3 separate regions of the Homo sapiens genome follow, and regions 1 and 2 are each linked to region 3. Evidence: fine-mapped expression QTL. A gene starts in region 3. Each other region holds a variant in brackets. All regions are shown on one strand. Distances are from middle to middle.

What was found. PIP is the estimated chance that this variant, and not a neighbour inherited with it, causes the effect.
Region 1: its variant is fine-mapped to the expression of NCF4 in whole blood (TOPMed, PIP 0.94).
Region 2: its variant is fine-mapped to the expression of NCF4 in whole blood (INTERVAL, PIP 0.98).

What each region holds. Positions count from the first base shown.
Region 1 is chr22:36,948,976-36,959,766 of GRCh38, forward strand. It overlaps LOC124900478 (a long non-coding RNA gene), which reads right to left and starts at 5,685. Exons shown (of 3, transcript XR_007068091.1): 1 at 4,673-5,685; 2 at 1,820-2,123; 3 at 1-1,368. It also overlaps the pseudogene CSF2RBP1. The variant C/T (reference allele first, on the strand shown) is at 5,865.
Region 2 is chr22:36,878,115-36,888,905 of GRCh38, forward strand. LOC105373022 (a long non-coding RNA gene) reads right to left here. Exons shown (of 2, transcript XR_938229.2): 2 at 9,914-10,755. Among named protein-coding and RNA genes, the nearest start is that of NCF4-AS1, 13 kb to the left of the region's middle. RefSeq lists a silencer at 856-1,048. The variant ATT/A (reference allele first, on the strand shown) is at 4,177.
Region 3 is chr22:36,854,858-36,865,280 of GRCh38, forward strand. It overlaps NCF4 (neutrophil cytosolic factor 4), which reads left to right and starts at 6,149. Exons shown (of 10, transcript NM_000631.5): 1 at 6,149-6,346; 2 at 9,188-9,272; 3 at 10,062-10,215. The coding sequence starts at 6,315. The region is part of intron 1 of NCF4-AS1 (NCF4 antisense RNA 1); the gene reads right to left.

The DNA.
Region 1 (10,791 bases), 94 kb after region 3:
TGGTCGGAGATGTCATTTGTGGCTTATGGTCATGCTGACCTTAGTCATTAGGCTGATGACCTTTGGATTTAGGCAATTTTTGATCAAGGGGAACTTTAGAATGGCAGTGCTTGTCCAAGATGGTGATGCTTCTGCTCTGTCAGCTACCATGTGGGCATATTACCTATCTGACATGAACTTAGAAAAAAAGAAACTAAAAAAAAAAGCAAAAAGGATTTCAACGCACTAATTTGAAGGGATATAAACATTCAATCCATGGCAACAGTGGTACATTTGTTACAACTGATAAACCTATGTTGATACATAATTATCACTCAAGGGCTATAGTTTACATGAATACATCTTGACAGGTATCCAGCATTATAACATGGCACAGAATAGTTTCACTGCCCTAAAAACCCTCTGTGCTCCACTTTTTCTTCCCTCCCTCACTCTACCCTCTGGCAACCACTGATCCTTTTTCTCTCTCCATAGTTTTGCCTTTTCCAGAATGTCATGCAGTTGAAATCATACAGTATGTAGCCTATTCAGAGTCACTGTTTTCATTTAGTAATATCCAGCTAAGTTTCCTCCGTGTCCTTTCATGGCTGATAGCTCATTTCTTTTCAGTGCTACATAGTATTCCATTGTCTGGGTGTATCATAATTTATTTATCCATTCTCCTACTGAAGGACATCTTTTTTGCTTCCAAGTTTTGTCGGTTAAGGTTGCTATAAGCATCTATGTGCAGGTTTTTATGTGGATATGTTTTCAACTCATGGGAGTAAATACCAAGGAGTACAATTGCTGATCATATGGTTAGAGTATGTTTACTTTTATAAGAAACTGCAAAATTGTCTTCCAAGGTGGCTGTACCATTTTGCATCCCCATCAGCAATGAATGAGAGTTCTTGCTGCTCCACACCCTGACCAGCATTTGGTGCTGTCCGTGTTCTGGATTTTGGCCATTCTAACCGGTGTGTAGCGGTATCTTTTTGTCGTTTTAATTTGCAATTCCCTAATGATGCATGATGCTGAGCACCTTTTCATACGCTCTTTTCACATCTGTATGTCTTCTTTGATGAAGTGTCTACTCTGGTCTTTAATTGGGTTGTTCATTTTCTCATTGTTTTTTTTTTTTTAATTTTGTTGTAGAGATAGGGTCTCGACTCAGGTGATCCTCCTATCTCAGCCTCCCAAAGTGCTGGGATTACAGGCATGAGCCACCACACCCGGCCCTTATTGTTGAGTTTTAAGAATTCTTTGAATAATTTGGGTAACAGTCCTTTATCCGAAAGTTATGTCTTTTGCAAACATGTTCTCCCACTCTTTGTCTTGACTTCTCATTCTCTTGATCATTTTAGTGGGAAGTTGTTTCTTGGACAATATCTAGCAAAATGAAAAACGTACACCTTTTGACTTTACTATTATGCTTCTAGAAATACTTGGACCCATACCCAAAACTATAGGTACATAAATATTTGTTGCAACATTGTTTCCTTCTAGAAATAGAAACCACAGGAGGGCGGTTCACACAGGGGACCAGGCCCCAGCCAAGGCCCCCTGTCCCTCACCATGCTGGGTCAGAGTGACAGTGAGCCAGGTGCCCAGAGGCCCGTCTGGCTGGAATGAGAAGTAGTCAATGTCACTGATGACAAAACTCTGGTAGGGAATGACACATCTCCTGGGCACACAGTGGGGACAGGGGCAGGCTGACCAGAGCATGTCATCGCTGAGGTAGCAGGACATGGGCTCCGGAGGGTCTCTGCTGGGAGAGGACACAGCTTAGCCCACTGTGCATGGGGATCACTCACTCTGCAAAGGTTCATTGAGTGCTCACCGCTCACTGAAGAAGCCTCCGGGTCTTGGATCGGGATTGGATCTCACTGCTAGTGAGTGGGAAACAGTCATGAGCAAAGGCGTTGCAGATTTTGATGAATGCTTTGAAAGGATTCCTGAGGGTCCTCGGTTGTGAACAGACTGAGGTGGGAATGTGGCAATGTTGCAAGCAGGGAACCCTGTTAGGAAGCTTCTGGAATATCCAGGGGACAGGAAGTGGTGTGCACCAGGGCAGTGGGGCTGTTGTGGGTGAATTTGCGTTCTGCTTGAGATAAGGTTAGCGGCATTCTTTGGTGGATCGGATGCTGCAGTCGGAAAGGAATGGTGGCAAAAGAGACTTAAAAACAAAACAAAATCCTCCCTGTTGTTTAGTTTGAGCCACTAGGAGCTCCCATTTAGCAAAGGGAGATGGGGAAGACAGAGGCAGCAGAGCCACTCGGGTGAGAGGGGGACTTTGGTTGAGGACCTTTGTAGTCGGAGATGCCTGTTGTCTAAGTGACAGGTGGAGACGCCAGTGCGCCTGGAGGGCTGGAGCTTAGGGGAAGTGTGGGCTCAAGGTCGCCTTTGGGAGATGCCCTCATGGCTGGAGGTGGTCTCTGCAGAGTGGATACAGCAGAGAGGAGGTCCATGGACTGGGCCTGGGGCGTTTCACCCTTGGCAGCCGAGAGAACAAAGAGGCAGCAGACAAGGAGAAAGAGGAGGATGGGCAGGGCCCTGGGGGTGCTGGGTGAGCTGTGGGCAGAGTCAGGTGCAGGAGGAACTGCAGGGAGGCCGCGGTGGTCCTCCTTGTCAGGGGCTGCCCCTGGTCAAGTAGGAAGAAGGCGGAGGCCCAACCATGAGATTCTGCTCCTGGGATGTTTGCTGACTTGAACCAGAGCAGTTTGGGTGGCCTGATGGGGGCAACATCCTGGGGAAGTGGGCTCAGGAAGAAATGGCTGGAAAGACACTGGACATGATGAGCGTGGACAACTCTTTATGGGGTTGCTGCTGTCAAGGGAAGCAGAGAAAGGGGGACCGCAGGGTTGTGAGCTCAGGAGATGCCCAGGCGCTGCACTCCTGTGGGCATCTGTGAGGGGGTTGGGGCAGGTTTGCAAGGCGATTGGGAAAGATCCTGGGAGAGGGCACGGTGGGTGACACAGGGAAGAGTGGGGACTTGGGGGCCGTGATGTTCCTGAGCAACAGGGCCAGACTGCATCGGGTCTCTAGCCTTAGACAGGAGCCCCAGCCCAGAACCAGGCCCAGGCCCAGGCCCCAGTGGTGGGCAGAGGGGGTGGGGAGTGTGAGTGTGGGGTGGGTGGGGAGCTTCTCCCTGGTCCCCTGTTATGTCAGAGCAACAGGAAGCAGATCACAGGGAGGGGCAGGATGGTATTTGAGGAGAATGGAGAAGGTCTGATGGAGCTCCCCAGGAGAACTGAAGGTGGTGGAGGGGTGGGGGGTGGCAGAGCTGGGGCCCCCTCCCCCTCTAGGTGGGGAGACCTCCAATCAGTTGTCACCTGCCTCTCTGGTTCCAGTGGCTTAATTATTTCATTTAAGGCTGATTCAGACCCTGGCCAACACCGCAGAGCAATGCCGGTCCCCTTCCTGTGTGGTTCGTGCCCAGGAGAGCTCGGGTGGGAGAGGTGGCAGCCCACATGCAGAGGAGGAGCCTGGGAGAGCATGGAGCCCCCTCCCAAACACGTCCACACGGCCTGTTCTGCCACTCCCCATCTGTGGCCAGGGCTGGCGCCTCACCTCCAGGGCCTCAGTTTCCCCATCTGTGAACTGGGCGTCGTGGCCTGGCCCTGCCCACCTCGCAGTGAGGAGGAACTAAGATAGGTCATGTGGGGCAACTGTGTTAAATTGTGACAAAATAAGAGAAGATTGTCACCATTGTTACCAGCACCATCCTCAACGACATCAGTGTAGAACGTGCTCCCCAGAAACCCCAGATCAGACAGTAGTGCCTGGCAGGTGCCTGGCTGAGCAGGAGCTCCCGGGAGGGCCTCCGTCCTCCTCTGTCCTCTGTCTACTCCCACCCCGAGGCTGACCTGACACATCCCTCTCTACACCACCATCCCACGCCAGGCAGAGGGGACACCGTAGCCCCTACCCGTGGCCCCTGCACCCAACGTCACAGACTCATTCACCCGGCGAATGAGGGTCACGTTGACGAGCCGCTGGGCATCCTGGGTGTCTGCCCACCCGCAGGTGATGTGGCTGGTATAGTCACTGTAGCAGCGCAGGGTCTGCAGCAGGACGGTTTCTGACAAGAGGGGCAGGAAGGGGTCACCTCTCTCCCCTGCAGGGTCCCTTATCACCACCACCCCCAGCTGATCTGGGGCAGAGGTGCCCTGGGTTGGGAAGGGGGTCTGCCAGGGTGAGCTTCTGCCTGTGGACCCTCCTCTCCTGACAGAAGCACCGTGCAATCCCTGCAGAATGGAGACACGCAGCAGCGACAGGCCCTGCCCCCCAGACCCCCAGGCATCAACCCAGCCTTGAGATGAACCCCAAGCCAGGACGCTGCTGGAGCAAAGGTCTGGAGGTGGAACCACTGAGGTGCAGCGAGTGTCTGCTGGGGAAGGAGGAGAAGGGAAACGGTCAGAGCAGCCACCCTGGAGCCTGGGGGCCTGGAGTGCCGTGCTGAGAAATATGGGCTGGGAACCCAGACACACTCAGCTGGACTTTCCAGGACAGGATGAGCAGGAATGTGCAGGAGGAGGGAAGTGAAGGAAGCCCAGGGAAGGCCGGGGAAGAGACGAAGCAAGGGGAGCAGGAGGAGGGTGGGTGGGCAGGGTCCTGGGGGTATGGTGCGGGCCTCCTCCAGGGTGCAGCAGTGAGGAGGGGGCAGGGAAGGGGTGGGAGCCACGGAACTCACCTTCTGCCCCTGCCAGGCTAAGTCCCCAGCACAGGGCCAGCAGGGCCATGAGGAGCAGCTCCCAGGCCAGCACCATTTTCCTGGTCAGCTCTGGACAGGCAGGTGCTGGCACAGGTGGATGCTGGCCATGGGCTGGGGTGGGGTCTTCCATGCCCTGGAGTCCTGTGTTCCTGCCCAGCTGGGAGCCAGGCCAAGCTGATCTCACCAGGTCTTGTTATTCCTCCATCCATGAATTGCCATCCTACCCCAGGTCTTGAGAAAGGAGATGTGGGCCAGGATAAGGCCCATCCACCCCTCTCGTCTTCCCAGGGATATGGCCGATGAGGAGGGAGAAGGCCATGTTGGGGGTACGGGGAGCCTGGTCCTGCGCCTTCTCCACCTAGTGTGGATCTCCTCCTCTGCCACTCTCACCCTTCCCCGCAGTGCTGGTGTAGATTCTGTGTGTTTGTATTGGGTGCTACTGGGTTGATGCCCAAGTGGGCTGCGTTAAGCTCTTCAAGTGATTTTGGCAGATAAGCTTTGTGGATCCACCCACCACAGATGGAGCCTGTCTCCTCCCAGGTCTTGAGGATGCACAGACTCCCTTTGGGCCACCTCACTCAACACCAAACACTCCACCATCCTTCCTCACCTGCCCCAAGCTGTTACTGCCCATCCCTTCTTCTCTGCAGGAGCCTGAGGCATTTCTTAGTTTCTTGCCCTTTGTGATGTCAGAAGAAAAGACAGAGGTCTTCTTTTCTTCTTTCTCAACACTTCTGAAACCATGAAACACGCAAGCCTCCACCCACTCACACACCCACATACACACCTACACATACCTGCACACACATGCTCAGACAACCCTGATGGGACCTGACCACCCTACGAGGGCGCTGACAAGACCTTGAGGATGCTGGGAACGAGCCAGGAAGGAGGACAGGATAGGAATGGAGTTCCTGAGGAGGCAGCAGGGCTTCTCGGTACAGAAAATGGTGAACTCTCAGTCTTCCTGCCCTGGCCATGCTCAGCTGAACAAAACCACACCAGCTGGTCTCACTTAAATTCAGGATTACCATCGGAGGCGGGGGTTGTGGGGAGGCTCTTAACGCTGCCAGAACCCCAAATGACACTTCCCAGCAGCAAGGAGGAACTCTGCCCTTCCCAAGAAGCTATTTCACACCTCTCCACTTCCGTCACACCTCTACTTCCCCTG[C/T]ACCCCATTCCCATGCCCCACTTCCCCTGCACCCCATTCCCATCCCCCACTTCCCCTGCACCCCATTCCTACACCCCACTTCCACTGGACCCCATTCCCACAGCCCACTTCCCCTGCACCCCATTCCCATGCCCCACTTCCACCTTAAGGACTCACGTATACCCAGGCACTATACAAACACACACACCCACAACCACATGCACAGACGCCAATGCAGGCACCCCTGACTTGCATCAAAGTCAACACCCAAATGGGCCAAATGGCTCCAAGTGGAGGAGGAGGGGCAAAAGACAGGCATGGGCAGAGGGAGAAGAGGCTTCTGCTTCTGGCCATAATGGAGTAACTAGGACCAGGTATAGCCTTCTACTTTAGAAGTATAAAACTGGACAAACGATATTAAAAATCTGTTTTCAGCTGTTAGAAAAGAGGAGTCCTTCTATATGATCGCTCAGAGAGTGAAAACAAACACGGTAGGTCCTATGATCATCCTACCTTTCTTTTCTTTTTCTTTTTTTTTTTTTTTTTCTGAGAGGGAGTTTCGCTCTTGTTGTCCAGGCTGGAGTGCAGCGGCGTGATCTCGGCTCACCGCAACCTCCGCCTCCCGGGTTCAAGTGATTCTCCAGCCTCAGCTTCCCGAGTAACTGGAATTACAGGCACTCGCCACCACACCCAACTAATTTTGTATTTTTAGTTGAGACGGGGGTTTCTTCATGTTGGTCAGGCTAGTCATGAACTCCTGACCTCAGGTGATCCTCCCACCTCGGCCTCCCAAAGTGCTGGAATTACAAGCATAAACCACCGTGCCTACCTTTTTCTACCTTTCTACCACTTTCTTGACTGTGACGTAGGTAAAAGAACTCCAACATGACCATGGCAGTCTTGCTGTGTTGGGCGATAGGGGTCTGAGTCTGAAGAGGCAAAAGAAGCTGGAATTTGGTGTAGAAAACAAGAGAAGAAAGAGCTGCACAGAGAAAGAGACCCAGCAAATCTACACAGAGATCCTCTTGCATGTACTGCTGCACACTAAACCATGCATGTGTGGGGTGGAGCTCCACTAGACTGTGTAAATAGTACACAGAGAGATGTATCTGAACAATTTCCAGAACTCACCAAGGTCTGGGAGATGTTCAAGTTCCAACAAGCCAGAATAGGAATTCTTACTGAACACCTCACACATTCAGTAGAGAACCAAGAAGAAAAACACCTTAGTGCCAGCACTAAACCAGCCCAGGAGAGGGCCATTCTAAAACTGCTCTAGGCCAGCATGGTGGCTCATGCCTGTAATCCCAGCACTTTGAGAGGTCAAGGCGGGTGGATCACTTGAGGTCAGGAGTTCGAGACCAGCCTGGCCAACGTGGTGAAACCCCATCTCTACTAAAAATACAAAAATTAGCTAGGCGTGGTGGCAGGTGCCTCTAATCCCAGCTATTTGGGAGACTGAGGCAGGAGAATTGCATGAATCCAGGAGGCGGAGATTGCAGTAAGCAGAGATTGCACCACTGCGCTCCAGCCTGGGCAACAAAGTAAGACTCCATCTCAATAATAATAATAATAATAATAATAATAATAATAATAATAAAAGTCCTCTAAGGAAGCTTAAAAACAAACCTTAAAAGATCAAACTGATTGATATGGTTTGGATTTTTGTCCCCATCCAAATCTCATGTTGAAATGTAATCCCCGATGTTGGGGGTGGGGCCTGGTGGAGGTGTTTGGATCATGGTTGGGGGATCCCTCGTGAATGGCTTGGGCCATCCCCTTGGGGATGAGTGAGCTCTCACTCTGAGTTCACAGGAGATCTGGTCATTTAAAAGTGTGTGGTACCTACCCCTACGCTGATCTCTCTCTCTCTTTCTCTCGTTCCTGCTTTCATTGTGACGTGCCTGCTCTCCCTTCACCTTCTGCCACAATTGGAAGCTTCCTGAGGCCTCCCCAAAAGCTGAGCAGATGCCAGCACCATGCTTCCTGTACAGCCTGCAGAACTGTGAGCCAATTAAACCTCTTTTCTTTATAAATTACCTGGTCCTGGGTGTTTCTTTATGACAGCATGAAAATGACCTAATACAGAAAATTGGCACTGAGAGTAGGATATTTTCCATATTAGGTCATTCTCATATTGCTGTAAATCAATGAATGCCTTAGACTGGGTAATTTATAAAGAAAAGAGGTTTAATTAGCTTACAGCTCTGCAGGCTGTACAGGAAGCATGGCACCGGCATCTGCTTCGTTTCTTGGGGAGGCCTCAGGAAGCTTACAATCATGGCAGAAGGTGAAGAGAGAAGGCACGTCACACAGTGAAAGCTGGTACAAGTGAGAGAGAGAGAGAGAGAGAGAGAGAGAGAGCACTAGTGCAGAGGCAGCTGCCACACACATTTATTTTAGTTTTTTTTTATGTTTTTATTATTATTTTTGAGACGGAGTCTCGCTCTGTTGCCAGGTTGGAGTGCAGTGGCACGATCTCAGCTCACTGCAACATCCACCTCCCTGGTTCAAGCTATTCTCCTGCCTCAGCCTCCCAAGTAGCTGGGATTACAGGCGCACACCACCACACCTGGCTAATATTTCTATTTTCAGTAGAGACGGGGTTTCACCATGTTGGCCAGGCTGGTCTCAAACTCCTAGCCTCAGATGATCTGCCTGCCTCCGCCTCCCAAAGTGCTGGGATTACAGGCATGAGCCACCATGCCTGGCTGGTGCCACACTCTTTTAAATGACTGGATCTCCTGTGAACTCAGAGCAAGAGCTCACTCATCACCAAGGGGATGGTCCAAGCCATTCAGGAGGTATCCCCCCGACCATGATCCAAACACCTCCCACCAGGCCCCACCTCCAAGATTGGGGATTACATTTCAATATGAGACTTGGGTGGGGACAAATATCCAAACTATGTCACTGATCTGCAAGTAACTTAATGACTCATCAGAATAAAGTCCAACACTTTTTGAAGAAAGACAATACAATGCAGCAGTCACCAACATAAAATAAACAATGCTCAGCATCCAATCAAAAATTACCAGATGTAGGCCAGGTGCAATGGCTCACACCTGTAATCCCAGCACTTTGGAAGGCCGAGGCGGGAGGATTGCTTGAGCCCAGGAGTCTGAGACCAGCCTGCACAACATGGTGAGACCTTGTCTCTGCAAAAAATAAAATAAAATTTAAAATTAGCTAGGCATGGTGGTGTGCACCTGTAGTCCCAGCAACTCGGGAGGCTGAGGTGGGAGGATCACTTGGGCCTGGCAGGTGGAGGTTGCAGTGAGCTGAAATCGTGCCCCTGCACTCCAACCTGGATGACAGTGAGACCCCATCTAAAAAAAAAAAAAAAATTACTACATGTAGAAAGAAGGAAGAAAATGTAACTCATAACAAGAGAAAAATCCGTCAAAGATAGAACCCCAAAATGATGCAGCTCATTATGGAACTGGCAGACAAGGACTTTGAAACAGTTATTATGAATAGGCCGAATAATTTTTCAAAAACATGAACATAACAGAAGTGGAAGATGTCAAAATAAAAACAAATAAAACTGCCACAGATAAAAGTACAACATATGAAAAGAAAATGTCATTGAATTGGCTTAATATTAGTGAATTTGAAAATATAGTAATTGAAATTATCTAAATTAAACACAGAATAAATCTGAAAAATATTACTATAAACTCCCATTCATCATTCAAGCCTCAGCTAACGCAGGGCCTCCTCCATGCAGCCTTCCCTGACTCCTCATGGGGATACAGATGGGAGTGGCTCCAATAACCACAGCTGGTGTGAGCCCAGAGCCAGACAGACCCGGGTTGGACTCCCACCTCTAGTATTGCTAAGAGTGAGACCTTGTGCAAATTATCTGCATGTTACTTCTCCAAGCCCCAAAACTGTCATCTGTTACTTGGAGATGGTCATCTACAAACCTCAAAATGATTTTGAAGGAACCAAGTGAAATAATGCCTGTCACATGGAAACCGATGATCGGAGTTAGCTAAATCACTTGTATTTTCCTTGGTTCCTATTTTGCCCTGTCCCTTCTTCCCATACAGTCCTGGAGTGCTCAGTGTTCATGCCCACCCCCAACCCCCCACAAACACACCTGATTCATATCTCTCTCCCTGGTTATTTGCACATGTCCTGGCACAGAGTTAGCACTTGAAATTGTGTGTTGGAAAATTTGGGTATTGGAAGGTATTGGAATGAATGCATGGATGGATGGATGGATGAGTGGGTGGGTGGATGGATGGATGGAGGGATGGATGGATGGATGAGTGGGTGGATGGATGGGTGGATGGATGGATGGATGGATGGATGGATGGATGGATGGATGAGTGGATGGATGGATGGATAGATGAGCAACTTCTTGAGGATAGAAGCTCCAGAGCCTATGCTTTTCTACTTTGCATCTCTGGTTCTATCCAGCCAGGTATGAGGCTGTGCACACAGACTGAGGAAACTCACTTGGTGACATAAAGACTGGGTGCCCTGTGTAAGCCACAGAGATGGGCACATTGAGTCCTGATGTTTAGAATTCAGAGATTGGTGTCTACCTTTTCTTCCTGTCTTTTTCCTGTGTTGGGGAGAAGGTCAGGGAGGAGGAGAGGGAATGGTGGGAACCACTGACATTCTGCCTTGATGATTCTTGAATTACTGCCTGCCAGGAAGGGGACCTGGCTGGGAACAGTGTAGGATGCCCTTCCCTGGTGGGGAAAGTCTTTCCTGGAGTGGAGGATTGGAGGGTGTTCAGGGAATGCCTGGGGCGCCCTGGGGACCCTGAGCTCTCTTTGGCACCCCTGCATGTGTGTGAAATCACGGTGCTGGCATGGAGAGGGTACTCAGGGGACATAAAGGGTCTGAGCTAATGTCCTGTCCCCAGCATTCTTTCTGTCTTGGATGGTCCCACTTGGCTTCCTTGAACCCCTTCACCACACTGGGAATGCAG
Region 2 (10,791 bases), 23 kb after region 3:
CCCCTGTCCTGCCACCCCATTTCCTTGCTCTGTCCCTGTGTTGGGGGGAAACCCGAGGGTCCCCAAGCCATACCCTTTCTCCCTCCCACTGCTCCCCTTTTCCTGGGATTGGCCACCTGCCCCACAGAAGTGATCTGCTCTGGGTGCCCTCTGGGGTTCCACCAATGCCAAGTCCTCGGCTGTGTGATGAGGGTCAGAAGCTCTCCTCTGCCTTCCTGTCTCTGCTGCTCTGTGGAGGAGGAAGGCAGGTCTCGGGGTTGGTTGTCTCCACTGTAAGTAGACACAGGGGGAGGACTCTAGTCTCATCCAGGAGGAGGGGGACACAAAGCAACGGGATCTCCTTCTCTGAGCTGAATCTCCTTCTATCCTAATCTACCAAAAATTAAACAGGTGTGACTCCCACAATGGTGGTGTGAGGAGCTTGGTGGACCCTCTCCCCAGGGAAACAGCAGTTTAACTGATGAGAAATACTTAAAATCAACTGTTTAAAGTCTCTGGAAATTGTTCTAAGGGCACAGAGCACATGGAGAGACAGTCGTTCAAGTAGATCATTACGTCTCAGTAAGAACAGTGAGTCGGTGGCATTGGAGACACATCGTGTTCCCGTCCCCCCACCCCCAGCTCCATGTGATGGAAATTCCACTCCAGATCCTCCACTCTGGATGGATGCAGCCAGGAAGATGGGCTCCCTCATCCCTCAGCTCCTAACCTTCCACAGTTTCACCCCAGGAGGAACAGGCTGCCAGAATCTCTTCTCTCTGCAGCCCTGTGTTGTAGAAGCACTATTCCAGGTCATTACAGCAGAGAGGACTGAGTTTCCTGCAGTTCCCATACAAAGTACCAGGAAATTGAGCTTAAGCAACAGAAATCGATTGTCTCACAGTTCTGAATGCTAGGTGTCCACAGGGCCATGCTCCCTGTGAAATATGTAGGGAAATCCTTCCTTGCCTTTTCTTAGCTTCTGGTGGTTTGCCGGCAATGTTTGGTGCTCCTTAGCTTGTTGATGGATCACTCTGTCTTCACATGGCATTCTACCTGTGTGTATTTACAGTGTCTTCCCTCTGTGCATGTCTGTCTCTGCATCCAAATTCCCCCTTGTATAAGGACACAAGTCATATTGGACTAGGGCCCATCCTAGTGATCTTCTTTTACCTTGATTACCTCTATAAACCTCCTCTTTCCAAATAAGGTCACATTCTGGAGTACTAGGGGTTAGGACTTCAACATGTCATTTTTAATTCCAACATAACACTTCAACCCATGACACTCCCTTTACCCACTCAGCTCCCCCTCCTAGGGCAAGGGCTCTGCAATAGGCGTAGCAGGCTAAGAATGCTGAACCTTAACCCTCTGGTAGAGCAGGGGTTCCATGCTGAGAGGGGCAATCTGAGATCAAGGGATACCGTCCTCCACTCCAGTGCCCACTCACAGAACAGGACATCACTCCTGGAGAAGCAGGCTGATTTCCCCATCCCCAGCTCTGATGCAGTGGTGCAGAGGTTCTGCCCAGGGAGAGAGTCAGGCCTTAGGGATGGAGAATTCCACAGCTTTTCCTGAGGGGACTAACTTTATTTGGGAAGCATGCCGAAGAAGTTGGCAAAAATAATGGAAATCTTGGTGGCCGGCAATTAAGGAGGGGCTAGATACTAATGCCATCAAGAGAAATGTAAGGCCAGAAATTTAACAGAGAACCAGATAAAGAAATAACGAAGAATAGTGGTTCTAGGACTACAGTCATCCCTGAGGACTCAAAAGATTGTGCTCTCGTGCCAGGCTGCACCCACACAGCAGAAATCAGAGTGGAAAGTGTGGCAGACTTGAAATCATTCCCTAAACCACATACAGATCCATCAGCAAAACACGCTAGCTCAAGAGGCTGAAGCATAACCTCTGACCAAGCAATGGCTGAACAATAAGCTAATCTGACACAGAGGGGATTCTTAGGAAGGCAGGCTTAAAAATAAAATTACACTCATTTCCTGGTGGTCTGGAAGACTGCGTGCACGCCCAGGCCGATCACTCTCAGGAGTGACTGGAGAAAGAAACGCTGGGCTATCAGTTTCTGACTGAACATGGGGCAAGTTTGAACCCTGTACTGTAAAAGATGTCTTCAAACCACATTCACGGCCAAAAGTAAGGGGTGAAACCAATCTAATTGAGGGGGCTTCAGCACAACTTTTCACCAATAGGTGGTTTATGCAGACCCAGGTGCAACCTCTAGGAAACCAGGATAAGAGAGAAAAAAAAAAAAAAAAACACAAGAGGAAAAAATACGAGCGGGGGCATCATAAGCTACACATTGTAGGGGAAACGGCCCTCACAAAATTAGTTCAGTGAAGCCACTAAACAAGTAAACAGATAACAAACCAAATAACAAAAACATTAAGCCCTAGAGGGAATAGGAGAGCAGCATCTAGAGTTGCTTCAAAATATAATCTAAAATGTTCAGTTCCTGATATGGTTTGGATCTGTGTCCCTGCCCAAATCTAATGTCTAATTATAATCCCCAGGTTGAAAGTGGACCCTTATGGGAGGTGGTTGGATCATGGGGGTGGATTCTCATAAATAGTTTAGTGCCATTCCCTCCGTGCTGTTCTTGCGATGGTGAGTGAGATCTGGCCATTTAAAAGTATGTGGCACCTCCTCTTTCTCTCTCTCTTCCCCTGCTCTTGCCATTTAAAACTTGCCCGCTTCCCCTTCATCTTCCACCATCATTGTAAGGTTTCCTGAGGCCTCCTCAGAAGCAGAAGCCACTAGGCTTCTTGTATAGCCTGTAGAACCAAGAGCTAACTAAACCTCTTTTCCTTATAAATTATGCAGTCTCAGGTGTTTTTTTGTTTTTTTGTTTGTTTTTTGTTGTTGTTGTTGTTGTTGTTGTTGTTTTGAGACTGAGTCTTGCTCTTGTTGTCCAGGCTGGAGTGCAGTGGCATGATCTCGGCTCACTGCAACCTCTGCCTCCCAGGTTCAAGTGATTCCCCTGCCTCAGCCTCCTGCGTAGCTGGGATTACAGGCACCCCCAACCTTGCCCAGCTAATTTTTGTACTTTCAGTAGAGATGGGGTTTTGCCATGCTGGCCAGGCTAGTCGCGAACTCCTGACCTCAGGTGATCCACCTGCCTCGGCTTCCCAGAGTGCTGAGATTACAGTCATGAACCACTGCACCCAGCTGGTATTTCTTTATAGCAGTGCAAGAACAGGCAAATATAGTTCCCAACAAAAAATTATAAGAATTGCAAAGACACAGCAAAGTGTAATCCATACACAGGAGGCAAATAAAAGCAGGCAAAGGAAACTAAAAAAATTGCCTTTGAGGGAAGGATTCAGATGCTGGACTTAGCAAACAATGACTTTATATTAGGAATATGTTTAAATAACTAAAGGAAACCATGTTTAAAGAATTAAAAGAAAGTATTGTAACAATGACTCTTCAAATAGAGAATATCAATACAAAGACATAAATAATTTTTTAAAAGAGAACCAAATTGAAATTCTAGAGTTGAAAAGAACAATAACTGAAATGAAAAGTCCACTAGAAAGGCTCAGCAGTAGATTTGAGTTGGCAAAAGAATGTTAGCAGAGAAAGTATAAGCAAACTGAGAGATAGATCAATAGAGATGATGCAATCTTAAGAAAGAAATAAAGAAAAAGGAGTGAAGAAAAATGAGCAGAGCATCAGAGAAATGTGGGACCCATGAAGTGTACCAACATATGCATAATGAGATTACCAGAAAGAGAGGAGAGAAGGAGACAGAAAAAGGATGAAAAGAAATAATGATTGGAAACTTTCCAATTTTTATTTTTTAAAAAACCACCAATCTACATATCCAAAAAGCTCAACAAACTCCAAGTAGTAAAATACAAAGAAAGCCACACTTAAACACATCATAGTCAAAATGTTGAAAGCCAGACATAAAGAGAAAATCTTGAAAGCAGAAAGAGAAAAATGACTCACCGCATAAAAGGGAACTACATTAAGACTAACAGCTGATTTCCTGTCAACCAAGAATCTTACATAAAACAAATCTACCACTCAAAAATGAAGGTGAAATTAAAACATTCCAAAATAAGCAAAAACTGAGAATATTCATTGTTAAGCAGACTTGCCATTACAAAAAAATATTAAAGGAAGTTCACTCTAATGGCTTCATTTTAACTTGATTAGCTCTGTAAAGACTCT[ATT/A]TTTTTTTTTTTTTTTTTGAGATGGCGTTTCACTCTTGTTACCCAGACTGGAGTGCAATGGTGTGATCTCAGCTCACTGCAACCTCTGCCTCCTGGGTTCCAGCAATTCCCCTGCCTCAGCCTCCTGAGTAGCTGGGATTACAGGCGTGCACCACCACGCCTGGTTAATTTTGTATTTTTAGTAGAGATGGGGTTTCTCCATGTTGGTCAGGCTGGTCTTCAACTCCCGACCTCAGGTGATCCACATGCCCCAGCCTCCCAAAGTGCTGGGATTATAGGTGTGAGCCACTGCACCCAGCTAAGACTCTATCTCATGTAAGATCACTGCATTCTGAGATACTGGGGTTAGAAATTCAACATATCTTTTGGGGGAGAATACAATTTGAACCACAACAGTACACTAGAAAATATCCATTTAAGAAAAATTTTAAAAGACCTTGCAAGGTGTGATCTCCCAAACCCAGTTATTTGGCTTCTAGTTTGTTGCCTGACCACATTCACCAAGAAAATTTTCTGCCACAAAACAACCAGACCTCAGCTAGGACACAGGCTTTGAGGAATTATGAGCCTCACAAGAAGCAAAGGAGTTCTCCAATGATTCTTCCACTCCCCACCAAAAAAACTATGATAGGAGCTGAAACCAGAATACAGAGCAGTTGGGGTGTTGTTTTCTGGAGTGCAGAGGCAGTCCAGAAGGCAGAGCCATGGGGAGGCCATGAGATAGGGAGGCTGCGCCAGGGGCTTCCGTGCCAGGCCAAGGCCCTAGATGTGAGAGCTGAGGTGATCTGGAGAGAGTGGCATTCCTGGCTTCAAGCAGAAGCGGAAGAGGGTCTCCTCTGGAGTAAAGTATTTCCAGTTTAGGCTGGCAGGAGTTACCCTGATTAATATCAAGCAAAAGGCTCATAGTCAAAGATCACCAAATCTCTGTGAGTGAGAATGAGCAGAGGCAATAAACAATAGCTTTAGAGCCCCAGGGACTACCGATTACCGAATTATGTGACTGAAATATTTAAAGAAATAAAGAATGTAACCATAAAGATAAACAAGCAAAAAAGAATGAGATGGCAAATTTTCAGATGTGTAAAAGAAAGAAGGTATGAACGCATCTATGTGTGTGCGTGTGTGTGTGTGTATACACACATATATATTATTCAATGGGTGAGTTGGTAAAAAGTCCAAATTTATCAATAATTCTGATACCATAAACATAGATGGATTCCATGCATGAGTTAAAAGACTGTCAGGGCCGGGCACAGCGGCTCATGCCTGTAACCCCAGCACTTTGGGAGGTAGAGGCTGGCAGATCACGAGGTCAGGAGTTTGAGACCAGCCTGGCCAATATGGTGAAATGCCGTCTCTACTAAAAACACTAAAAAATTAGCCGGGCGTGGTGGTGCACACCTGTAATCCCAGCTACTCAGGAGGCTGAGGCAGGGGAATCGCTTGAACTCGGGAGGCGGAGGTTACAGTGAGCCGAGATCGCACCACTGCACTCCAACCTAAGCGAGAGAGTGAGACTCCGTCAAAAAAAAAAAAAAAAAGACTGTCAGATTGAATTTTTAAAAATCTAAATCTATGTAAGTGTCATATGTACAAGAGACACACATAAGGTAAAACGTCATGGAAACATTGAAATTAAAAAAAAAGTATGAAAAAAGATATTCCTGGAAACCACTAACCAGAAGACAGCTGGGACGTCTATACAGATTCACAATCTACTTTTGTGTAAACTTGGTACTCAAACTCACTTGGTAGCACTCCTTGACCCTGAGCTGAATAGTTAACGCTTACCAGCCATATGTGTCTCTGCTATTCCCTTATTTTTTGATGCTTTTGGGGGGATGAATTTTGATTTTATGTACAGCTCAAGTAAGAACCCGTCAAAATCAGAAGTGAAAAGCTTTTGCTGATAATGAAGCTGATGAAAATTGCATGGGTGGATTTGTTAAGTAACGGTATCTGATGAAAACCTTGGCTCTGATCAATTGGCAGTGGGCTTCAGTCTGCTCTGCAGAATGGCTGATGAGGACCCACCAATTGCTTACACCCTGTTGACTGTTCTTGGCGTACCATGTGCTACAGGAACACACCAGATACATTTGACAGTAACTGGAAAAAGCCTACATCCACCATCTTTGTAGGATGTATCCAATTTACCGTCTGTCAGTACACATACTAGACACCATGAGTAACCAGAGAAATATTTTCTGACTGATTAATAACATTTTTATACCAGCGGTACAAACTCATTGCAGGGATTCTAGCTTGGAAAAAACAATTGTTAGATGTTATCATTCCTAGGAAACTGCTATGCATACTCCCTCCCTAAACATCTTGTGGAAAAGCAGTTTCAGCTTTTATTTCCCCTTGGGGGATATGTGCATTTTAGCCTAAGTGCAAAGAAGTTTAGAGGAAGGGTAAACACTTTTTTTCAGGCTGTGCTCTTGCTACCATCACAGAACCTAAGATTCCATGGCTCCCGAAAGAGTCCAGTGTTAAGAATGTCATGTACACAATTGACAGTGTTTGGAATGATGCTGATTATACATTAACACATTTGACACAGATTCTGACTATACTGATGCTTGCAAACAAGTCTGTACATAAAGGTTTTGGAGAATTTTTGTGACTTATGAGAAAATGATGATGTAAGACTTCATTCTTGCACAAAAAGTTTATCAGCTAAAAGTGGAAATAACTGAGAAAAACTGATACCAAAGAAATGTCAAACACCGTGATTCAGCTATTGTTCATTCTTTGCATAGTGGGGAAGTTGCTAACAAATACAGATAAGGGTTACTGTGATGATAATGACTACACAATTAACACAGAGTAAAACATTCCCATTAAAAATATGGTGAATATTTAATTAGTTAATTATGGGCCTTGAGCAATTCTCAATTAATGGTGAGCAGGAGATAATGGAAAATTACCCAATTAGAAACAGGCTTCTCAAGTAGGCATCTCATGGAATAGGATGCTGGAAGAAGTCATTAAAAAGGCAATTGATTGCAGTGTGCTTCTTGGTTTGGGGACCCTGTTCCTGGTACATCATGAGATGTCCAGGAGGGAATATCTGGCATCCTCAAGTTAAGATAATTCAAGGTGTGTTTAATAAAGGGACTGTTTACAAAGACGTAGACAACACACAGGAAAACCTCAAGGAATAGTTCAATATCCCAGGGATAGGACCTCAGACCTGTTACATTCCTGAGCCCAAAGGAATAAAGGGAAGGAGTGTCTACAAAACCTGGAAGGAGGGGATTGTGTAGACATGGCCTCCTTAGAAGGACTGGTGATCTTTGACTGGTGGGCGAGATTGACCCAAAGTAACCCCGCTGGGAGGCGATCAGAGGAACAAATACCCCGCCCTCCTCTCCTTCCCCATTCTGATCTCAGGGGAGGGGTTCCCTACTGCCAAACAAAACTGGAAGCCCTAGGGCCAGGCTGTTGTAATCCACACAGGTTAGCTTCCCAAGGTAGACAGCAGGGCGGAAGAGAGCACAGTGTAGATGTGAGTGGGGAAAAATGAAGATATCTGGCATCCTCCACCCGTTTTGCCCCTCATTATATACGCTTATCCTTCAGCCAAGTGAAAACTCCATGTTCCCAAGACAGGGAACACAGGAATTCCCATCAGCTATTTTGGCATTTTAGGATCATATCCATACAGACATACTCCCACCTGAAACCCAAAGTGTGAGCTGCTACGGGTATTCTTTATATAAAGCAGTGGAGGCATGATGAATGAAGTAATATACGCATGGCTGTTAGAGCCCCTGCATCCGCAGCTGGTCACAGGTCCAAAGCTGATATTTTGAGCTACCTGTTCCCAGTGTTCATTTCATGTTCCTCTTTCCTCTGCCAGTACATGGGTCAAATAAGGGTCTTTATGTGGTGGAGCAACTCAAGACTTCATTCCTATGGGATCTGAGTTCTCGTTAGACTTGTCTTTATCAGATTGCCTCAGTATTCCATTGACCAGGACTATTGGGTAAGAAAATACTGAGAGGCACCTATGTGAATCACGGTGGGACCACACATAGTCCTGTCTACCTCCTTTCTTTTTTCTTTTCTTTTCTTTTTTTTTTCTTTTTTTTTTTTTTTTTTTTTTTTTTTTTTGAGATGGAGTTTTGCTCTTGTTGCCCAGGCTTGAGTGCAGTGGCACAATTTCAGCTCACTGCAATCTCTGCCTCCCGGGTTCAAGTGATTCTTCTGCCTCAGCCTCCCAAGTAGCTGGGATTACAGACACCCAGCACCAAGTCCAGCTAATTTTTTTTTTGTTGTATTTTTAGTGGAAACGGGGTTTCACCATGTTGGCCAGGCTGGTCTTGAACTCCTGACCTCAGATGATCCACCTTTCTCCACCTCTTTCTCCACCTATTGGCTCAGTGGCACAAGGAGGGTCAAATGGTTCAAATTTCTAAAAAATATCACTTTGTATATGCCACAAGTTTTCATATGCCCTATTGTCATTTGATTGTAACTACTATTTAAATTCAATTAGGATATTATCTGAGCTATCAGTTACTTAGAAGTGTGTTTTAAAATTTTTAAACATGTGAGGATTTTATTTTTTGTTTGTTTGTTTTTGGGGGTTTTTTTGAGTTGGAGTCTTGCTCTGTCGCCTAGGCTGGAGTGCAGTGGCACAATCTCGGCTCACTGCAACTTCTGCCTCCCGCGTTCAAGCGATTCTCCTGCCTCAGCCTCCCAAGTAGCTGGGATTATAGGGATGCACTACCACACCCAGCTAATTTTTGTATTTTCAGTGGAGATGGGGTTTCACCATGTTGGTCAGGCTGGTCTTGAACTCCTGACCTCAAGTGATCCACCCACCTCGGCCTCCCAAACTGCTGGGATTACAGTTGTGAACCACCATGCTTGGCCATGTGAGGACTTTAAAAAAACACTTTTTTTTCTTTTTCTTTTTAAAGTATCCTTGCACGTTTTGTGCAGATTCATTTGTCTTTCATGTCCTTCAGTTTTAGAGACCTAGACAAGCTAAGGGAGTGAATCAAAATCAACAGATAACAAGGGTGAGGTTTCTCAAACTGAAGCATCCTGTTTACGTCTGGTAAAACCACCTCCACAGAACATCATGCGTCGTCAGGTATAAGGCCTAACACCTGTGGTGTGTAGTGATACAGCATTTTATCTCTTCCTTGTAGCCCATGAAATAAAGAGAAAGTTTGTTCAAGAGATGATGGTAGTTTTCACTGCACTAGAGTGTTACAAGAAAGTAAGTGAGAACAATAACCCCAGGACAGGGAGGCTGCTGCTCACTGCTCCAGCATCTGCAGCATTCTCCTGAGGGGACACATTAAGGCAGCAGAGAGACATTTCCCAAAATAAACAGCGAGGGAAATAAAGGTGTAGGAGTCACAGTGAGGAGGCTAAAGTGACTCCATCTTGGAAGCTAATCCACCATGTTGACTTCTGATTAACCCCGGTTCTGGGAATGCCGCTAAGATTTCCATTTTATCTATTGTTCTTTGTGTGAGAACATATGCCTACCATAAATCCTGCCTTTAGATCAAATTAAGCGTGCTACCCTTTCTTTATGGTGTATAATCCCTGGGTCTGGGGGATAATAGTGTAGAGATCTACCTGTCTCACAGCTGCCCAAGACCATCCTTCAGTCCCTAAGTTCCCAAATAAAACCATCCTATAACAAGCTGGATTCGTCTGCTTCCTTCTTTGGTATCCTGGCTCCTATGTTTGCAGGTCACTTTGCATATACAGGCTTAAAAAAACACTTTTAATAGTCAAATATAACAATACAGAAAGTACATAAAAGAAAAATAGCTGAAAATTAACAAGCTAAACTTCCAAAATCAGAAGTAAAAAAACAAAAACAAACAAACAATAGAATTAGCTCAAGGAGAGAAGTAAAGACATAAAGATAAGGCCAGAACTCAAGATCACCACAACCAACAACAAAAAATACAATAGAAAAGGTCAACAAAGCCAAAATTGGGTTCTTAGGAAAGACTATGGTAAAACTGATGAAGATAAAAAGAAAGAAGAAAAAATAGTATTAGGAATGTAAATGAACCATAATTATAGATGAAACAGAGGTTTAAAATACACTGAGAATTTCGTCAAAAGCTTTATATTCTAAATTTTAAAATTTAGGTTAAACAAATACTTAGAATAGTATAATTTGGTTTAAAAAATCAAGAGAATAGAGAGACTGAATTTTCCTTTAACTATTAAATACATTGAAGTTGAAATGTTGCCTCCCCAGGCACATACAGTTTTATGGGCAAGTTCTACCAAACGTTAGAACAGCAGATTATGCTAACATTACAAAAAAATCTTCCAGAAAATAGAAGATAGACTATTTCCCAACTCATCTATGCAGCCAGAATAATCTTCTTGCCTGTCTTAGTCTGTTTTGTGCTTCTATAGCAGAATACCACCGATTGGATAATTTATAAAGAAAATAAATTTATTTCACACAGGTCTGGAGGCTGGGCAGTCCAAGGTCAAGGCACCGGTAGATCAGGGTCCAGTTTCTCTGTTTCCAACATGGCATCTTGAGCGCCGCATCCTCCAGAGGGGAGGAACACTATGTCTTCACATGGCAGAAGAGCAGAAAAGGAAAAGAGTA
Region 3 (10,423 bases):
TGTGTGTGAATTGCACCTTGATAAAGCTGATTTTTTAAAAATTGAAGTAGAACGCTGTTAGAAGTGGTGCTTCCTCCCCTTGTTTCTAATGCCACCCTCTTGCAAGCCCATATCCAAGTAGTGGACCAAGGCATCTTATAAAAACATAAATTCAATCATATCACTCCTTGTTTAAAACACTTGAATGGTTTCTCTTTCCTCTTTGAATGAAATCCTGAGAATCACCATGACTTACAAGCCTATCTGTCCTGCTCACTGACCCTGACATTTGGAGGGCCTAGAGCAATGGGACAGAGGCCCATGTACCACGATTCTAAATATGTACAGTTAGGAATCAAGCCAATCAACTGCTAAAAAGTAAGTTCTATCCTTCTTTGATAAATGTACCTTCATGATAAACTGGAAGGCCAGGTTCAAATGTAGAGTTTGGAGTTCTGTCCCAGAATGTAAGGTTAACGAAAGGCAGACGCTAGACTATAGCCTACTGCCATTGCCTTTCCACCCCCGGATCCATCTGAAACCTCCAGGCTACCTGCCAGGCCGCTGTAGACATTTGTGTCCATAACCTCTGGGGACCAAAGACAGCACTGGAGATGGAATCAGAGAAACTGGATGTGAAACATGTATCTCTTGGTTTTCCCCAAATTGTACTTGATTCTGTATGTGTGTACATGTTTGAGCATGGGTATGCATGCACGTGTATATTTGCATGTGTGTGCATGCATGTATGTGCATTTCTATATGCCTGTGTGTACATGCATGTGTGTGCAGGTGTACATGTACATGTGTATATGTATGTGTCTCTGTGTACATGCCTATGTGTGCATGTGTATATGTACATGTGTATGTGTATATGTGCCTGCGTGTGCATGTGTATATATGCCTGTGTGTGCATGCATGTGTATGTGTTTATACATGTTTGTGCATGTGTATGTGTGCCTGCGTGTGCATGTGTATATGTGCCTGTGTTGTGCATGTGTGTTTATTTATGTACCTCAACAGCAGTGTGAGCTACCTGAGGGCAGCAGTTGTGCTGAATTCATCTCAATATCCTTTCTACCTGGTGCAGAGTGATACTAGATGAATGCTTGTGGAGTGAATAAATGAATGAATGAGGGCCAGTACAGCAGTTATTAAGTGTGGGTCTTGAAGCCAGACTGATGTGAGGTCCAAATCTTACTCTGCCGGTCATTAAGCAAGCCGCTTTGGTTTATTTTCCTAATCCCGTAAAGCCTGGGTTTCCTTATCTCCCGGTGGGGATAAGAATACCACTATTTTATGGGGGTTGGTGTGAGGATTAGGTAACAACAATCAGAGCCAACATGGACCAAGCCAGGCTGTGGGCCAGGCACTGTACTAAGGGCTTTGCAAATGCTAGCTCTCGTGCTCCTCCTGGCAATTTCACGGTGTAGGGGTGGTTACACAGTCAACTCTCAGAGTGACTTGGCTGTTACCGTATTTATGATGGTGGAGAGGAGATTCAGGATTCTTAGCCCCTGGGGGAAGCTTCCCCTGAGTGCAGCTCAGATTCTGGCTGATAGGGCTGTCTGGAGAGGTTGTCTGAGCCAGCAGGCTGCGCGCTCTGCCTGGCCAGCTGCAACTTGACTCTCGACTTGGCCGGGTCCTTCTAGTGCGGCTTATAGCATTCAACCTCCTCTAGGTGGCGCTGCGGAGCGGGGACTCGGCTGCTGATCGCGGCGCCCCCTGGCGGTCTGTTCCCGTCAACATTTAGATTAAGCGCAGAGCCGGTTCCGCCAGGGAAGTGCGCGTCCCGGTGCCCCCGCGTGATGAGAGCGGATGACAGATTGCGGGAAAAAGTTAGAATGTAACGTTAGTTGTATGACAGAGAGGACCAAGCTGTGCAGCAGAGGGAGACAGAAAAGGGAGGGACCAAGCCACAGCAAGGAATGATCGTCAATAACATTAACGTCTAGAATTTATTGACCACCTGCTATGCGCGAGCCACTGTCCTAAACATCTGGTATTCATTCCCTTAGTTAACACACCTCTAGTAAGTGCGTGTCTCAAGAACAGTGTCTGTGTTTCATTTAGGGCCTAGCACACAGTGGGTGTCTGGCACATAGTAGGTTCTCAACACATTTGGAAATGAATAATACAATAATCCTGCAATTTTTCTCTCCAATTAATAATGTAGAGGCAAATATTATCTCCATTTAGAAAACTGAACAATGGTCGGAGAGTTTGCACAACTAATGCGTGACACAGCGAGGGCACACGAGGTTTAGACCCAGCTCAGCCGTGTGCCAGGGCTTCTCAGAGAAGAGAAGACCCTCTGCCTTCAGGGAGTTTGCTGTCTAATTGGCCACGTCTACACCCTCCCTGCCTGGGTGGCATGCCAGGGATGGCTATTTATGGCTCAGGGAGGAGGTCCAGTGAAGTTCCCCTCATAAATTATAAAGGGAGACACATGTGGGTCAAGATTGGGGAATTCAGTGTGTGAGGGATCCCCAGGAATCTTACACTGTCCAATCAGGGATTTTCCTTCTCTTACCCTGGAGAGTGGCTGATGTAGGCAGTGGGGATTTGCTGAGTACCTATAATGAGCTCTCAAGGGTATCTCCTGGTCCTGTAGAAGAGGCTCACCTCCTCCCTATCACAGAGTTCCAGTTCCTATGGCTGGAGCTCTCAGCCCCAGCCGCTGGCTGCTCAAAGGAGAGTTTCCTCATGTCCAAAATGGGGGCTATGGTTTATCTTGTATACCCCAGCACCTGCATGAGGAAGGACTGAAAAGTGCTGTGCACTTTTGTGATTCGCACATCCAGTCCCCATTCAGGCTCTGGGGATCCCCCAGGCATGGTCTTGGTGTATTAGACTTTTTCCTGGAGATGTGATTATGAATGGGCATTAGTAAGTGGTGTTATGCAGAGATGCCCTTCTCTGAATGGCCTCTGGTATTTGTTTTTTGAGTTCTTGAGAACATATATATTTTTTGGTATTCCATGGTCTTTATCATTGTCAGGCTGTCACTGAACTGTCGCTTGCATTTGGCTGCCCCTGGTAATTTTCTTCCTTCCCCTAACTCACTGCTTCAAGTTCTTGAGTTGGCAGGAAGAGAGGACCAGGCTCCTTTTATATTTCTTCTGTGAATAAAATATGCCAGTGTCAATGCATAGACTTTGAGCTATCAATTCTAACCATTCAATGGCTTTTCTCTTTTTTTGGTTTATTCACAGGCTGTGGGATGTGGAGGTTATCAAAAATCAGGTCTCCATAAGTGAGAGGTCACTTCAGGCATTTCTTTGCACTTATCCAAAAAAGATTCCATCCATACTTGTTTAATGGAACGTGTGAAGAGCTTGGCTCCTCTTCCAGGTCATCCCTCTGCCTCATTCTCCCCCTGCAGCAGGAGCAGCAAGAGCCCGGTTCTGGAGTGGGAGTAGAAGGTACAGGCATTGCTGCAGCGGCAGGACAGGAGCCCATTGCTGACAGAGTGCCTGGCCTCAAATTACACTGTATCAGAGCTCGGGCATAAAATTGGCAGCAGCGTTCTGTGTATGAGGAGACAGAGAAATACCTGTATTCAGCAGAACCACGGGCAGGGACAGAAGAAAAGGAGAGAAAGAGGGGAGGAGGGGAAGAGCTGGCCCGTCGCGGGCTCTTCCCTGGACATCTTTGTCCCCCAGGTGCAGAGGTGGCTTCCCAGTGGCTGAGTCAGGGCCACAGGAGGTTTCTTGGGGGGTTGGGGGGGCCGGGGTTTGGAGGGCAAGCCATGAAAATACCTGGGAAGGTAAACTTGAGGGCTTAACCCACCTGAAACACACACATACAGATATACACACTGAAAACGATTAAAAAAGGAATAAGAAATGTCCATGTGTCTAGGCACTTTTATACAGTTTTCTATTAATTCCTACTACAACTCCATTAGGCAAGACTGTTTCACAGATTGGTGAAGAAGAAAGGTTCAAAAAGGACATGTTATCTTGCCTGAGTTCACCTATTATAAATGTACTTGTGTTTATACTCATTTGTCACCGACTGCAACCTAAACATCTAAACACATTCTCTCACAGCCACAATGCCACCACTATACACATTATATGGTCTTTTATAGACACAACACAAATGCACTTACACTTGCCTATGCGAGCTGTATGTGTTTATACACAAATATGTGTTTCCAACTATAGGCATATACTACACACACAGTTTACACAATCACCTACAAATTCTGTATCATGCTTGCTTGCTAAAATTGTTTTGCCACTTCCTGTCCTTCCTGACCAACTGTAGGCCAATGTCCTCCTCTTCCCTCAGTTATGGCTGTGTGCTTGCACCTGTTGGTACTTACAGACACCTGCACTAATAACCCTGCTCTGTGTTTCATTTCATCCTCTAGCCTGGGAGCCCCGAGACACCAGCAACTCATCAGACTTATTGTTTGTATTATTTCTAGTTCTTTGGGTGTGAATTCTTCATGATGTGGAGGCTCTGAGCTGTCTTTCACAGCTCACGATTTGTAGTTTTGGTCTGTGAGTTGACAGAGTAGGCCCTGCAGAGTCACTGACTCCAAGCTGTTTTTATATAATGCCTCAGCTTAGGATTTCTGCACCACGTGGGTAGCTTATATCGGGGCCTTACACCAGTGCAGAGGGCAGGCTTGAGGCTGATCTGGTACACACGTCCCTTGTTCCACCCATGGACTGTGAGAGGACCTCAGCTCCTGCCGTGACTCTAGGCTGATGGCTGAGAAACTCTGTTCCCATAATCAGTTCTGACACCCACTTTACACTGAGAACTCAGATTTGACTTTCTGCTAACAGCAGGACCTGTGGCCTGTACCTAGTCCCAGATTTGGCATTAAAATCTCAGCCCAACAATGCATATCCAATCTTGGTTTTCCCATGGGCTGTTGGCCACGTTCCTCTCCCCCTGGTATAGATTCCTGACCCCTCTCTTTGATCCTACCTAAAAATTATGCTTTCTTGTTTTTTTTAGCTGGGACTTGTATGTTTAAAGTAGTTTAAAACAACTTTCTGCTCTGCATGTATGAATACGAGTGTGTGAGCGTGTGTAGCTGGCAGGGAGTTACTGGGTGTGGCTGTGCCAATGACTCCTGTGGACCTCTTCTCAGAGAAGTCCCTTCAGAATCAAATACCCATACCTGTTAGGAGCTGCAGTCACTGACTGGCAGCGTTTCATTCATTCACTGAATATTGGTTGAGCACTTGCAATGTGCCAGGCACGCTGCTAGCCAAGGAGGCAGTCATTAAACATACAGATAAACAAACAAATGTGAGATGACAATAGTTATGAGTGCTCTGCAGTAGACGTGCAGGGACCTGTGAGAGAATGTAGTAGGGAGGGCCTTAATTTAGGGTGTGTGGTCAGGGAAGGCCTCGCTAAAGATGTAGCTTCTAAGCTGAGATGCAAAGGAGGCAGTGAAGAGCTTTTTCCAGCAGAGGGAACACCATGAGCATAGGCCTTGGGGCGGACGTCTTAGAACATTCTAGAAACGGAAAGGAGGCCAGTGAGAAAAAGGGAGCTCAGGAGCAGAGGCTGGGGAAGGCTGCAGGGCCTCAGGGGCATTGGAGGCAGGCAGGGCAAGGACTCTGGACTTTATCCTGAGCACAGGGTGATGGGGCAGGAGAGTTTAAGCAGGGAGGGTGAAACTCACTCTGATTGGCAGCCCTGTGAAAGAGGATTGGCTGGGCATGGAGATCTAAGGATGAGGAAAGGATATCCCAGAGTGCCAGGGCGCGCAAACCAAACTTCACACTCTAGGAAGACAGAGGCCAGAGGAACCAGGAGGGCTTCCTGGAGGAGGTGGCATTTACTCTGGGCCTAAGAGATCACAGGAAAATGGAGGCCAGCATTCTAGGCCTGGGGAAGAGTTTGGGCAAAGGCTTGGCAGTAAGAGAATAAAGGTGGGGCTTGATGGGCCAGAGGATAAGTGACTCCTCAAGGTCACAAGACACCCTGATGGCTGGGACCCCATCTCTGATGGAGCAAGGCTTCTGATACCCAACTGAGGCTTGGCGCCAAGGACTGACATCAAGGAAGTGGATTCCTGCAAACCTGGCACCCGAGGGTCCACTTCCTCAATTTCTGTGCAGCTGGGAGGTGAGGTAAGAGGAAGTGTGGGCCACAGGCTAGGCCCAGAGAGCCTGGAGGAGGAGCCTCTGCCAGACTGGAGAGAAGCAGGCCTGAGCCTCCCCAAAGGCAGCTCCTGGGGACTCCCAGGACCACAGGCTGAGACGAGACGCAGGGTGGCTGGAGGAAGTGAGAGGTGAACTCAGCCTGGGACTGGCTGGGCGAGACTCTCCACCTGCTCCCTGGGACCATCGCCCACCATGGCTGTGGCCCAGCAGCTGCGGGCCGAGAGGTGAGTGCCGGGGTGTGGCCGCCCCCGGGCCTTCTCACTGCTCCTCATAGGCCTTAGGGACAAAGGCCAGTCCTTCTGCAGTCCCTGATCAACATGAGAGGCTGGGGTTGAGTCAGAACCCAAATACTCAGAAATGCAACCTCTCAGAACTGCTTTAACGAAACTTTGAGCTGTGGCTCACCACCCTCAGACACAAATGAGAACACTGAGGCTCCAAGAGTGGGAGTGACTTGCCCACGGTCACACAACGAGTGACCGGCAGTGTCTGGAGAGGAATGCAGGTGTCCTGGGTCCCAGGCTGGGGCCCTTTGCTTCACATGGTGATCAGCAATGACTTTCCATCTTCTGCGCAAACAGAATTCACAGAATCTGGCTTGTTCTTCCGCTAATCAGGGCTTGCCTCAAATGTCACCTCCTCCAAGAAGCCTTCCTGACAGCCCCTACCTCATTGCTGTCTGACCCTTTGCCCTATTTCCCTTTTCTGCCTGGTTCTTATATTACAGGAATAATATTATATGCTCATTTATTATTTTTTCTTGAACGTTGGCTCCCCCATGAGAAGCAAGCTCCACGAGGCTGTGTCCGTTTTGATCGCTGCTGTATCACTAGGAGGTAGCTCATCCCTATTGAGCACCAGGACCAAGGGCTCAATAAATGTTGCTGAATGAATGAATAAATGAATGAATGAATGGGTGGATCTTTGAGACGGAAAAGGTCTTAGATTCTTCTAGTCCAACCTTGCCATTGTACAGATTGGAAATCTGAGGCCCAGGGAGGATAAGAGACTTACTCAGGGTCACAGAGAGTGACTGGCAAGGTTGGGGCTTGGAGCACGGCCTCACCAGCATCTAGCCTCGTCGCTTGGGAAGCATTTTCAGAATTTTTCCTCAGTAGCCAGGTCTGAGCTCTAAGCTGCGGGGGCCCTGAGGACGCAAAGCCTGGCCCCTGCACCCCCTGGATTGGAACAGCAGGTGACCTCTGTTACCTACGTGGAGGCCACTCAGGGGGTCACCAGAGACAGGCCAGGCTGGTGTGTGCCTACGCGGGGAACAGAAGGCCCATGTTGGGGCCTGGGGCTGGAAGTAGAACCTGAAGCGTGGGTTGGGGCAAGGGCAGCAGAAGCAAATGCCTACAGGGGAGTCCACGTGGCCTTCCTGAGCCTCAGAGCGGGGTGCAGGAGCTGGGTAAGGCTGGCCGACCTGAATTCCTTCCTCCCCTCACATGCTCCTGGGGGACCCAGCCGCACGCAAACTCGAATCTTCCGGAAGCAGCAGCTGTTTGAGGCTTGGGCACTTCCTGCTTTCTGGGGTACAGGGTTCAGGGGATGACACGGAGAGCTGACCAGCAGGACTGTGCACTCCCTCCCCCACTCCCTGTCCCCTTTCAGCTGCCTTAGCCCTCAGAGGGGGAGGGACTGCTTTTCATGAGGCCTTGAGCCAGGTACTAGGGGCATGGGGGCTCCCTGTACCTCGAAGGTCTTATCTGAAAGCGAGCCTGGATTGTTCTGCTTAAGGTCAAAGCAGAGAGTACAAGGAGAGGGCGCAGGTTCGCGCAGCGGGGACTTTCTAGAACCCCAAGGTGAGACATCCAAAGATGGGGAGGGCTGCCTTAGGGGTGGCAAGTTCGGTTCCAACAGACATGTTTTGAGCACCTACTATGTGCCAGGTGCCAGAAAACCTGCCCTGGCTGCCCTCCAAGGGTTCTTCCAACCTCGGCCTCCCCCAGGGCAGGCTCCAAAACCTCCCCCAGGCCAGGCTCCAAAGTCTGTGAACTGTGCGAGTGTGTCTTGAGCCAGAACATCCCGGCCCAGTAGGGCCTGGGTGAGGTCCCCAAGGGAGCGGATATTCCAGGGGACTTCCGGTTGGGTTTGCTGCTCTTCTTGCCCGCCCCACAGGCAGCCAGGCCATTCTCATGCTGCCCATCAAAAAACTCTATAATTGCAGACGACGGTAGTGGCCGTGTATTGAGCAGTACTGAGCACCTACTGTATGCCGGGCTCTGTTCTGGGCACTGGGATGTAGGGTGAGCAGAGTCCTTGCCCTCATGGAGATTTTAGGGCTGTGTTTGTTACAGATGGGACTGCATGACCACCCGGAGACATAAGTACTTCTCCTGTCCCCATTTTACAGAGGAGGGAAGGAGCGGAGCACAGCTAGGAATCTTCCCAAGGGAGCTTGATCTTCTTGTCCCCAGTGCTGCGCCTATGCCTCGAGCATCTGCCAATGTCTGTCCTGCTTGACTCCTTCCTCAGCCCCCACCACCCCAGGGAAAACTCGAGGTCCCTCTGCGAGGCATCAAGGCACCTCGTGAGCGGGCCCTGCCTGTCTCTCCGACTGGTCTCTCATCACGTTCCACCTCCTGCTCTGTGCTCCAGCCATGCTCAGCAACCTGCGGTTCCCTGAACTGAGCAGCTCCATCCAGGGCACATGTTGACTTTGTTTACATCTGTGACCCAGGGCCTAGGACAGGGCCTGGTATGGAGATGTTTGATGCCTTATTCCCAGGTGAATCTGTGCAATTGACAGCAATGTGTTAGACTATAATTTGGCTATTGCTATATGGTCACCAGCTTCCCATTCCTACACTCAATATGGCCACCAGCTTCCCATTCCTGCACTCAGTATGGCCGCCAGCTTCCCATTCCTGCACTCAAGGCCTGGGCTGTGTCTTGTTATCTCCGTATTCCCAGGGTCAGTGGCTGGACCTGGCCTGGGAAGGGGTGCTGAGAGACGAATGTTGGCTTCACAACATTAGTTTGCTTTGCACTCTACCTCATACCCGGTGGGCCCACAAAACACATCAGGGTGATAAGCAGGATCTCTTTTCCCCTCCTTCGCACAGTGACTTTGAACAGCTTCCGGATGATGTTGCCATCTCGGCCAACATTGCTGACATCGAGGAGAAGAGAGGCTTCACCAGCCACTTTGTAAGACAGACTCCTAGTCCTTCACCCAACAACCTCTGAACTTCCACCCAGCTGACCTCTGAACCTTGCCCTCTGACCTCTGAACCTCCAATTCTCTGATCTCTTAACTTCTATCTCAGTGGTTCTCAACAGGACCGATTTTGCCCATTTGACATTACCCTGGGAGATTCTGATTATTGCATCTTGGGGCAGGTCTACTCCACATCTAGTGGGTAGAATCCAGGGTGCTGCTAAACACCCCACTGTGCACATGACAGCCCTGTCCCCAGTAAAGAACTGTCCGGCCCCAGCATAATACTAAGATTGAGAAATCCTGATCGCGTCCTTTGACCTCAGAACCTCCACCTGGAGAGTCGGGGGTGAGGGACTTTAGTGTTGCCCCCACAACACCCCTGTCATATTCAGACACAGATGGAGGGGGCATCCTGCACCCACAGCACAGCCAGGGGCAGGTTCACTCTGCACCATGACCTCCAAGGCATGGCTCCTCATTTCTTGGGCCTGAATGTGTGTTTGGCCTATTTCCAAGGGCTCTTGCCTCTAACACTAGGTCTCACTTCCTCTCTTTTTCCAGTTTTTTTTTTCTTTTCTTTTCTTTTTTTTTCGCAAAGCTCGTCTGCTTCTGGGGCGCCAGCCTTTTGACTTGACAGGGGTCTCCTTCTCCAGAGACCCTTCTGCATCCTTATCCTCATCATCTTCCTCCTCCTCCTCCTCCCCTTTTCCCTTCCACCTCTTTTTGGCTTGTGCTCCTGGCCCCTGAGCCCTCCCCACAACCTCTGTCCTCCTTAGGTTTTCGTCATCGAGGTGAAGACAAAAGGAGGATCCAAGTACCTCATCTACCGCCGCTACCGCCAGTTCCATGCTTTGCAGAGCAAGCTGGAGGAGCGCTTCGGGCCAGACAGCAAGAGCAGTGCCCTGGCCTGTACCCTGCCCACACTCCCAGGTAGGCGGCCACTCCCGTCCTGCTGCTGCAGAGCTGCTGACTCTCCTTCCTTCCAGGGCCCCTGACACTGTTCTGTGATTTGATCTCAACCCCAGTGAAAACTGTTCATGTAGTTTATAGCCCCCACTCCCGGCAGTTACAGGCTGCCAAGCCCTCCCTGCATGGCTCCCCCTGCCTCACGCCATGGCTTCCACCCCAAGCACTCTAG